Linked DNA regions of Homo sapiens. The protein of the gene in region 2 interacts with the protein of the main gene of each other region in a pairwise test. Each region holds a gene or a part of one and is shown on either strand. Other genes may lie near its edges. The genes, in order: PAX5, FBLN1 and CHIC2.

Region 1 (2,657 bases), on a different chromosome or scaffold from region 2:
TAGCTGATAATATGTTAGTTTGTAAGTAGGGAAAAATTATTTTAAAAACTAGCTGGGCTTGGTGGTGAACGCCTGTAGTCCTAGCTACTTGAGAGGCTGAGGCAAGAGGGTGGCTTGAACCCAGGAATTCAAGGTTGCAGTGAGCTATGATTGTGCCACTGATAGCAGAGTCCTGGTTGGCCCTGTTCACTTCTGTGTCCCCAGTGCTGGGGACAGAATAGATGCTCAATCAGTGTGTGCTGAATGAATGAATTAGGTGGGAATTACCATTTGGGAACTGAAGAAGTAGACATTAAATCACAGCTAGGAGTCAAATCCAGAGTGGTGGCTCACCCATGACTCAACCTGCCAAGCCTGGGGACATCTCAAGGGTGGATTCTGTGCCTGCTGTCCCCTGCCCAGGGCACAGCCCAATTCTGCAACATGGGTTTGTTTTGACAAAACAATCAAATCCATGCATGACTACGGTACAGTCAAAGTTGTCAAAGGTCATCCTCAAACTAGTAAAAACAAACAAGATCAAATTCTTTTTCTGAACTTAAAAAATTACTTTTATTTTAGGAACCAATAAAATTATGGCAAATATTTACAAATAATTATCTCACATAAAGGTTACATAAAATCAATTCTTCACAAGTAACAGCCACTCATGAAAAGACACACAGATATTGAAACTACGCCAATCTTATTGCATGTTTCTCCAACTAATCTAAAATAAAGGTGTTGCAGTCAACCATTTAACTTAAAAGGAAGCCACAAATTTCAGGTTTGACAAGGAAAAAAAAGTAAAAAAAAAATTAAACCAAAACCCCACCCCTGTTTTCTCCCAAGTCCCACCCCTAGCCCTGCCCTCCTCCCCAAAAAAGAAAAATATGTCCAACATCTTTGGCAAATTGGCACTGCTGTAATTACATTCAAATATTATTACACACAAAAGCAACACACGTCACTAAGAAAAAAACCACCAATATTTCAAGTCAGTTATTTTCTACTAGAAAAAAAGAATACAAAACATACACATTTTTTAAGAAGCATTTTTTTTTTTCAATCCGTTGGAGACAGATCATCTCCCACTTTCAAAGGCAATTCAATTGTGGTTTTTGTTGTTGGTTTTTTTGTATTTTTTTGTATTTTTTTTTTTTTACAAGTAAGCGTCTATGCAGGCATCACAAACTTTGGCGGATACAGTAGATATGTATTTCTTTGATGCTGAAAGGTCAGTCCCTAAGACAAAATCAAATGTCTCAAAGAATTAAAAGCAAAATGCATGTGTCTTCCTGGCAAAGGTTTCCATTTGCAATGTAATCTGCATTTCTACAAATACTCAATGTCCAAGGCCACTAGAGGGTGAAAAACCAGGGCAGCGTCTTCCAGCAGGAGTCAGGGCAAACCCAGAGCCAAAACTCCATCCTCAGCCCAACCTTGGAGGCCCAGCAGCTGGGGCTGAGAAGTGGGGCCCAGGCAACGCCAGGCCCTCACTGCCCGCCACCCTCTGTTGTGCTGGGTGCTTGGGGCCAGGGGATGGGCCTGCCTCTTCCTGAGCCCCGGGACAGGCTGCTGCCGGGTCTGCTCACCTTCTCTGACCCAAGTCGAAGACAGCAGGCAAGAATTGGCATGGGGAGACTCAGTGCTGTTTCTGAGTTTCAAGTATGTCTGAGGTGTAGGGGAGTGAGTGAGTGTGTGTGTGTGTGTGTGTGTGTGTGTGTGTGTGTTTACATGCTCGTGCACCTTATGGAGGGGAAGGCCAGATTCTGAGGCTCTGAACTTTTTGCAGTGTTTAAAATAGACTCAGGATTTATTTATTTTCTTTTTAGCTTTATAGCAATTAATTGGCTATTGATTGGTTGGAATGTTCAACTCTCCATTTCCTCAAATACAATAAAATAGTTTCATTAAAATGTATTCATGCTTGAAAAGAAGGGCGCCATTAAATGGTTTCCTTTCTGTTCCACTCCAAGGGAAATGCGCCGTTTGTAAATCAAAAATCCATCATCCAAAATCACTTGTTCTTAATGATGCTTTTGGAGAAGATGAGGGACGTGGCCACAGGCATGGTGATTTTGGGGACAAGGGCGACCAGCGGCCATAGCCACAGGGTCACAGGGTGGGGGGCGGGGGTCAGGGCAGGTGAGGCTGGTGTGGCCTCCTCCTGCCAGGCCTCAGAGTCGGGGAGGAGATGCACGACTGCCAAGTCACCCCCACCCTGCTGTTTCACCTGCTTCCCTCCCTGGGCCCCGATCAGCCACCGGAAGCTGATGGGTGGGTGGGTTTGTGCCTCTGTCTCTCCTGCCACAGGCCAAGTACCCTACCTGAGACGACTCCTTTGAGGCTTTGCTGATTGTCCCTCAGTAGATATTAATAGGTAAGCAGCTGCATTTTCTCCTTGTGTTGCTCAGGGGTCTAAGATGTGGGAACAAGAATTTCTGGGCTTTCTGAATGGTGGCTACGTTTACCCATCTTGGAGATGAGCTAAAGGGGACCCCTTGGATTGAAACTCTAGAATGGCAGTGACATGATTCTGAGGTTCCCTTCAATCCTGGGGTGCCCAGGAACGGAGCCTCAGTGCTGAGGAATTACCAGAAAAGGAAAGACAGGCTGGTGCCTGCCTGCTCCTGGCCGGCAGCTCATTTCAGAGAAGCTGTTGCCTCATCAGGGGA
Region 2 (3,757 bases):
GGGCCTGGCTCAGCATAGGCCCTGTGAAGCCCAGTCATCGGAGGGGCCTAGAGCCTTGCTGGGAGTCAGAGTTGCTGGCACCACGTGGACAGTCACCTGTCTCCTTAATACCGTGCCCAGTGTGTGGAGTAGATGAATGCAGGAGAAGCCAGGCAGGCAGGTCCCGATTTGGCGCAGCGAACGATGGAGGTGCTGGAGATTTAGGGACAGGAAGAAGGGCCAGAGAGGTGGTGTTTGAGGCGGTATGCAGTGATAAAATTTGGGAGCCAGCTGGGAGGCGGCTGTGTGGTCCAGAGTGAGGGGGTTGAGCCCCTCCATTTGTGGTTTTGCAAAGAGGTGGGAAGGGGAGTTTCTTTGGAGATCCAGTTTTTGGGTTCTGGGACACCCTCCAGGTTTAACCACATGGTCTCTGTCTTTTCCCGCTGTAGATATCAATGAGTGTTTGAGTATCAGTGCCCCGTGCCCTATCGGGCATACATGCATCAACACAGAGGGCTCCTACACGTGCCAGAAGAACGTGCCCAACTGTGGCCGTGGCTACCATCTCAACGAGGAGGGAACGCGCTGTGTTGGTTGGTATTAAGAAAACAAATCTGAAATCCACTTTCCTGTCTGCTTCCAGCATGCACCCTGCCTTCTCTGGAAGCAGAAAGTTGATCCCCAAAGCAAAGCCATTTCTATCAGCCCATCCATCCCACTGTCAGTTCCCAAGCATGGGGCTTCATTGTCTTGCCTGGACTGGTGCACCAGCCCGTCTACTGCCTCAGCCTTGTCTGGCTTGTCCTGAGCCCAAAGCTCTCGCACCCCACCCTGTTTACAGTTCCATCAGCTCCCCGTTGGTGACAAAGGATGGATGCCTCTGCTTACAGTCCAGTCCCCCAGAGCTGGCCCAACTCCACAAACCTTGTAATTCAGGCAATGTGGGTCTGCCACTCCCCACACAAGCACTGTCCTTTCCTCTCTGTGTGGGTGTTTGCTCTCACGTCATTCCCTCTGCCCACCTGCTCCTACGTTCCTTTGGATCCAGGGCACCCAGCCTGCCTAGATCCCGCCAGGGAAGGAGCCTTCCTCGCATAACCCCCAGGACACTTCTTCAGTGTCTCCCTGGGTTCCTGGGCACTTCCTACCTTAATGAGAGTCATTGCTGGCCTGCCAGCCAGGTAGGGCTGCCTCTGGGTCAGCTATCTTCCCAGTCCAGGGCCCGGCACTCAGTAGGTGCTCTGTGAAGTCGTGTTGAAATGGAATGCCTGTTTCCATGTCCATGTGTTCCTTTCTTGCTTTCCTTTCTGATCATCTTGGGGGGAAAAAACCCAAACTAAAGGTTTTCATCATGGCTTTCTTTCTCCTTTGCAAGATGTGGACGAGTGCGCGCCACCTGCTGAGCCCTGTGGGAAGGGACATCGCTGCGTGAACTCTCCCGGCAGTTTCCGCTGCGAATGCAAGACGGGTTACTATTTTGACGGCATCAGCAGGATGTGTGTCGGTGCGTGGGGGGCCCCGCAGGCCTCGGGGGAACCCAGCCACGTGGCACCAGGGACACATTTCTGTGGCACCTCGAGTGATGTGGTCTGATCCTCATCTCAGATAATCCCAAGTGCAGGCAGACCCTGAGAGAAGATCCTGAGTCAGGAGACCCCATTCTAGCCCCAGCTCTGCTACTGCCCAGCCAGGCGGCCACTGGCACCACCCCCCTGTGTGTGAGCCTGCTCCCCATCTGTGGAAAGGGGTTCTGCTTGACCCAGGACCTCCAAGTGCTGATGAGCCAGGTCTACACATGTGGGCAGCATCAGCGATTTCCTGGAGATTCACCGCTGAGCTGTAGATCCCCAGGAGCTAGAGATGTGTGCCTTTAGCCCAGGGCAGCGAGGGGAAAAGTTGACCAGGAGTGGGGTCAGGTCTTGTCCAGCCAGTGCCTGCTGTCACCAAACCTAGGTGCTCAGGGAAGCCTGGCAGCTGCCAACCACTCCCCCAAAGTGGGCACTTTGCTAGATCCTGGCAGACCCTCCTTGTGGGTCCTGGGGAGGAGGACTGGCAGGAGGGCACAAGTTCAGATGTGCTGCCGCAGAAGGAGCACGAGGCTCGCCCACCAGGCAGGCACAGCGCGGCAGTCCCGGCTCTCCCACTGACTTCCCGCATGCTCGGGACAAGTCACTTTGCATTCCTTGTCTGAGAAATGAGGCTGGAGGCCAGGCGCGATGGCTCATGCCTGTAATCCCAGCACTTTGGGAGGCTAAGGCAGGTGAATCACTTGAGGTCAGGAGTTTGAGACCAGCCTGGCCAACATGACGAAACCTCATCTCTACAAAAAATACAAAAATTAGCCGGGCGTGGTGGCACATGCCTGTAATCCCTGTTACTTGGGAGGCTGAGGCAGGAGAATCACTTGAACTGGGAGGCGGAGGTTGCAGTGAGCTGAGATCATGCCACTGCAATCCAGCCTAGGAGACAGAGCGAGACTCCATCTCAAAGATGAAGGAAAAAAAAGAAATGAGGCTGGAGGAGGTGGAGGACAAAGGACATGAGCTGGCCTTACTAGGAGGGTGGAGTGTGGTGCCACTGTGTTGGACATTGCCCTGAGTCAGCCCACCCCTCACTTTCAGATGTCAACGAGTGCCAGCGCTACCCCGGGCGCCTGTGTGGCCACAAGTGCGAGAACACGCTGGGCTCCTACCTCTGCAGCTGTTCCGTGGGCTTCCGGCTCTCTGTGGATGGCAGGTCATGTGAAGGTGAGGCTGGGGCCCCGTCCACTCACCTCCCCCAGGTCACCTTCCTCCTGGGGAAGCCACCCTTCTGCAGACCGGTTTGCAGCAGATCCGCGATGGTTTCCCTGTTAAATGACATGTTAGCAGGGGAAGTGCCTGTAAAATATTGTTCATCAGAGAGGACTGCCCGCCTGCCCACCCGATTTCTCCTGATGACATCCACCCTCCGAGGCCGTGTCGGGGTTCATAGGCTGCGGCAGAGGCCATGCGGGATGTGGCTAGGATTATGGGGCTTGGAGCATGACACCCACGAGTCACAGGGCCTTGGTTATGCCCGACCTCTCCCTGCCTCCGTGTCCTCCCCGGGGAGAGGGGTTGATGTGTGAAACAGCAGCGAAAACTGGACACTTGTTTTGCACAAAGACAGTGTGTGGGTTTTAATCAGATGCTGCCTAGGGGAGACAGGCCTCTGTGTCCATTGATCTCAAGTCACCCAAACAAAAGGAGGGAGGCTTTGTAAATGACGAGCTGTGAGAGGAAGTACTGAGGCCTTTAGGGCGTGGGTCACTGTGCACCTGCCTCTAACTTCTTTTTTTTTTTTTGAGACGGAGTCTCGCTCTGTCACCCAGGCTGGAGTGCAATGCTACGATCTCGGCTCACTGCAACCTCCGCCTCCCGGGTTCAAGCGATTCCCCTGCCTCAGCCTCCCGAATAGCTGGGATTACAGGTGCACACCACCATGCCCAGCTAATTTTTGTATTTTTAGTAGAGACAGGGTTTCCCCATGTTGGCCAGGCTGGTCTTGAACTCCTGACCTCAGATGATCCGCCCACCTCGGCCTCCCAAAGTGCTGGCATTACAGGCGTGAGCCACCGCGCCCGGCCTGCCTCTAACTTCGTGTTGGAGTTAGGCTTTCCCCACCCGCAGAGACAGGGAGAAGCACCCTGGCCTTCCGGATGACGACATTCCCCAGGCATGTCCCCAGCCCTTGAGAAAGACACTCCTTGGTTGCACATCTCAAAGGGACAGAGAAACCGTTTACATTTGCAAGTTTT
Region 3 (3,757 bases), on a different chromosome or scaffold from region 2:
TCTCAGGTCTATGAAGTTGTAGCCTTGACAAGCTCACATTGACAGAGCTCATTGACTCTGAAAGGCTACTCTATCAATGGTGAAAAATGGCAATAGGTTCTACTCTGAGCAGGCATCTGCCTGCCCACCCGCTGCTAAACCAATGGCAAAACCGATTCAAAACCTGAATCTACCTTGTAATCTTTCTTTCTAGGGCCTTTTAATAATAGATTAAGATTACTATACAATTTGAGGTTTTACTTTTACTGATGATTTTGGGGGTGGGTGGATGATGAAAGAACTAGAGCAGAACAAGTTTTCCAAGCCCACTGTTTTATATTAATGTATAAAATAGTACCCAAAAGCTTAATACTACATTCTGCAAATACTTATTACTTAAAGAAAAAAATGTAGTTACCACCATCATTTCATCAGAAGTTTAAACCCATGCTATAATAAGAATAGATCTCATTATGATATATAGACACATACATACACACAATTTTAAAACTTAAAAATATTTACTTTAACTTAAATCAACTACTAGTATTTGAATAAAAGATAATTACAAAGTATAAATCTTGAATTCCAAAATATTTAAGTAGGAATTCTGAATTTCTTCTCTGTTTATAATTAGGAGTTTAATGATAGGGCTTGGTATAATAATTGTATCTTACAATATTTAAGAATTATAAAACAAACAAGCCCTGATATGCCACATTCTGAATAAGCATATAAATATAAAATATTTCTACACACTTCACAGTCTGAAGTAAAAGCTGTGAATTAGCACCATCTAATTTTGCTATAAGACTTCTTTCCTGCTTGACAGGTGAAAAAAAAAGCACTTGCACGTGCAGCTTAATTAATCATTGCACTTGACATCTCAATGATTTACAGTGAGGAGCAGGTGAGAACATACAAAACCAGAAAGGAACCCTTGATTTGAGTGGAACATTTCTAGCACACTAAGGTGACAAGTATATAGATTCTAGCAGTCATTTAAAAAAAAAAGGAAAGAAACTGTGCCACAAATTATTTGTTAGTAACAACAAAAGCTCAAATTAAATAGAAAAAAAAAAGGTTGAGCTACTGAGAATGTTTAATACTATGCAATTATTGTTAGTTAAGAAAATCAAAATATATTTTCAAGATTAAATACAATACCAATTTGGCAGATACTAAAAAAAATGACACTTCAGCATTTATAAAAGCTACTTAAAAGCTTTTAAAAGAAAGCACTTTATAATTGTAGTCATCTAGATAAAAGTTAAAGAGTTTATGTCCACAAGGCTGTCAGGTAGCTATTTCTAATGAAATGTAAGATTCAACAGTGTCGAACTCTACACTTGCTAACTGTGGACAAGCAAATCTAATCATATAACAACCTGTCCTTGGTTTTTAAATGTTTATTTCAACTCCAAATTCAAAACAAGCTGAAGCAAATTAACATGCATCAGAAAAAAATATGTATGGGATCTGTCAACATGAAACAAAGTACCAAAAAACACCATCTTTCAGTATTCCAGGCCAGTTTCTAAAAAAATAAGTCATCTTTAATTTTCTTTAAGAGAATTTAGTGCTTGTGAAAAGCACCAGATTGATAGTCATGGGAACTAAAAATCTATTTAGCTGAAAGAACAGGGGAAGGGGCAGTGCAGGCTTTAGTGTAAGCTTCCCTACAGTGGGCCTTAATCCTTTTCACTGCTCACACCCTGGGGGTGAGGGGACAGGTTAGCGGTTCTTTACCAATGTAATTCTCCGTCTTTCTGCAAAAGATGATCAACAAGAAATGTAATTTTATCAAGTATTCTTATCTTTAATTAAAAGGACCAAGACCACCAACTCACAATATGCAGGAAAAACAACTTTTTTGTGTGAATGGCGTCATGTTACTAACCTGGTCTGGAAGTAGACAGCTCCAAGCATCTGGATCCCACCCATCTCCCTCAGCTCACTTTAAATAACCCTTTTTCTTTAAAAAAACAAAAACAAAAACAAAAACAAAACACACATTTCTTCATTTCCACACCTTAGTGGTTATATTTTTCTCATTGGTGAACTAGTTTTAATACAGCCATTCAGCTTTGTGAAAGTAAAAATTAACAGGAGATTTAAAAAATATCATTTCAATTACTGAATAGGTATTAAACAGACTTAAGTTGAGCAACAAGTAGTAGTAACATAAGAATAGAAATTTTGGCTTCTATTTATATTGCCTTTGGTCCCTTTTAGATTTTTGGTAGAATTGTGAAAATAGGAAAAACATGAAAACGGAAAGAGAACTAAAAGGGCCTCAGTAATTCATAAAATGGCTAATATGGTAATGATTAATCAGCAATATTAGATAAGACATACCCAAATAAGACATACCTTCCAAAGAAGCATCTAAAGTAAGCTTATAACAGCAAAGCACACATACACCTAGACAAACTCAATTACTGCAATAGAAAACTAAGATTTCCTGAAAATTCAAATTTGAATTATTATGTATTTTTGTAATTTTTCCTAAATACTGTAACTTTCTTAGGAATAAATTATTAATATTATTCCCTATAAACAAATTAAATGCCATTAGATATAAATTAGTCTTCCAGGACAGCAAAGAGCCATTTAGAAAATCTTTAAGGTATTAATCTCCTACTTTGCCACCACTGGTTACTTAAGAGTTTCCTAATTCCCAATGACTCATTTAATCACAATCAATTGTTTGAAAACATGGTTTTACAAAGAAGTGGTTTTCTAGACATTACTAATAAAACCAATGGAAATCTCATAAATTTTAGAGTATTGAGAGCTAAAGAAAAAAAATGTTAAGTGTAGAAACTGTAACAAAGTTTATCTTAATATTTCCCAATAAAATAGTATTATCAGTCTTTAGAACAAAAATATGCTATGATATGCTAATAAAATGTACAGAATACTCACTAATAACTATTTATAAAAGTTCACCTATTTAAACCTATAATTAAAATGTATTTGAATTGGATTTATTCATACCATCACAAAATGGGAAAGCAAAATTTCAAATGTTCAATTCCCTACTTAAATTTTAAACTCTTAAATCTATAATGCATTAATTAACCTTTAACTAAAATGTTTTGAATATATTCATAATCTTGTTTTTAACTTATATTTTTCAAATAAGAATGCTATTCATCTTTAGACATCTGTGTAAATTGAATTTGTTAAGTAAAACAATGTCTTTAGCTGTAAGTTATTAGGGAGAAACCATATATAATTTAAAATGAATTATTTTAACATAAGAGAACTTAAGAGGAAATTATATTATTCACTTCTGCTCATTCTGGATTAATATGAAATTTTATATTCCAGTGATGTGCAGAAAATTAAATAATTATATCACAGTATTATGCTACGTGAAAAGCCTAGATTCACCAAAAAACAAAAAAAAACTAGAATATGATTTCTCAAAAGGATTTTTAAACAAATTCCTTTCCTGTACATTAAAGCACCTTTTAAAATTTTAATATGAACATTAACTTTTAAATAATCTAGATATATTAAAACACCCACTGAAGTATCATGTGCTATTTGTTAAAAGTAATATTTTTAGATAGAAATACGCTAAAAAAAATTGCTAAAATTTTGTGAATCAAAAATATCCTCTAGTACTGAGCAGTGTCTTAATAGGTGCTAATCTTAAACAGAATTTCATCAAGTTTACGATCTAGGCTAGTGAGAGAATATTAACTTGTTTAGGTTATACTGGTTATGAATTATGAAAGATAGGGATTCTCTCTCTGCAGAAAAAAAG

The links.
Region 1: the proteins of FBLN1 (region 2) and PAX5 interact in binary tests that used the Homo sapiens proteins (3 or more experiments, as listed by UniProt).
Region 3: the proteins of FBLN1 (region 2) and CHIC2 interact in binary tests that used the Homo sapiens proteins (3 or more experiments, as listed by UniProt).

The regions. Positions count from the first base shown.
Region 1 is NC_000009.12:36,832,742-36,835,398, forward strand, and holds the end of PAX5 (paired box protein Pax-5), read right to left. Parts: 3' UTR 528-2,657; downstream 1-527. UniProt on the Homo sapiens protein: Transcription factor that plays an essential role in commitment of lymphoid progenitors to the B-lymphocyte lineage. Fulfills a dual role by repressing B-lineage inappropriate genes and simultaneously activating B-lineage-specific genes.
Region 2 is NC_000022.11:45,540,801-45,544,557, forward strand, and holds part of FBLN1 (fibulin-1 isoform D precursor), read left to right. Parts: intron 1-428; coding exon 429-572; intron 573-1,354; coding exon 1,355-1,483; intron 1,484-2,600; coding exon 2,601-2,726; intron 2,727-3,757. UniProt on the Homo sapiens protein: Incorporated into fibronectin-containing matrix fibers. May play a role in cell adhesion and migration along protein fibers within the extracellular matrix (ECM).
Region 3 is NC_000004.12:54,015,859-54,019,615, forward strand, and holds part of CHIC2 (cysteine-rich hydrophobic domain-containing protein 2), read right to left. Parts: intron 1-3,757.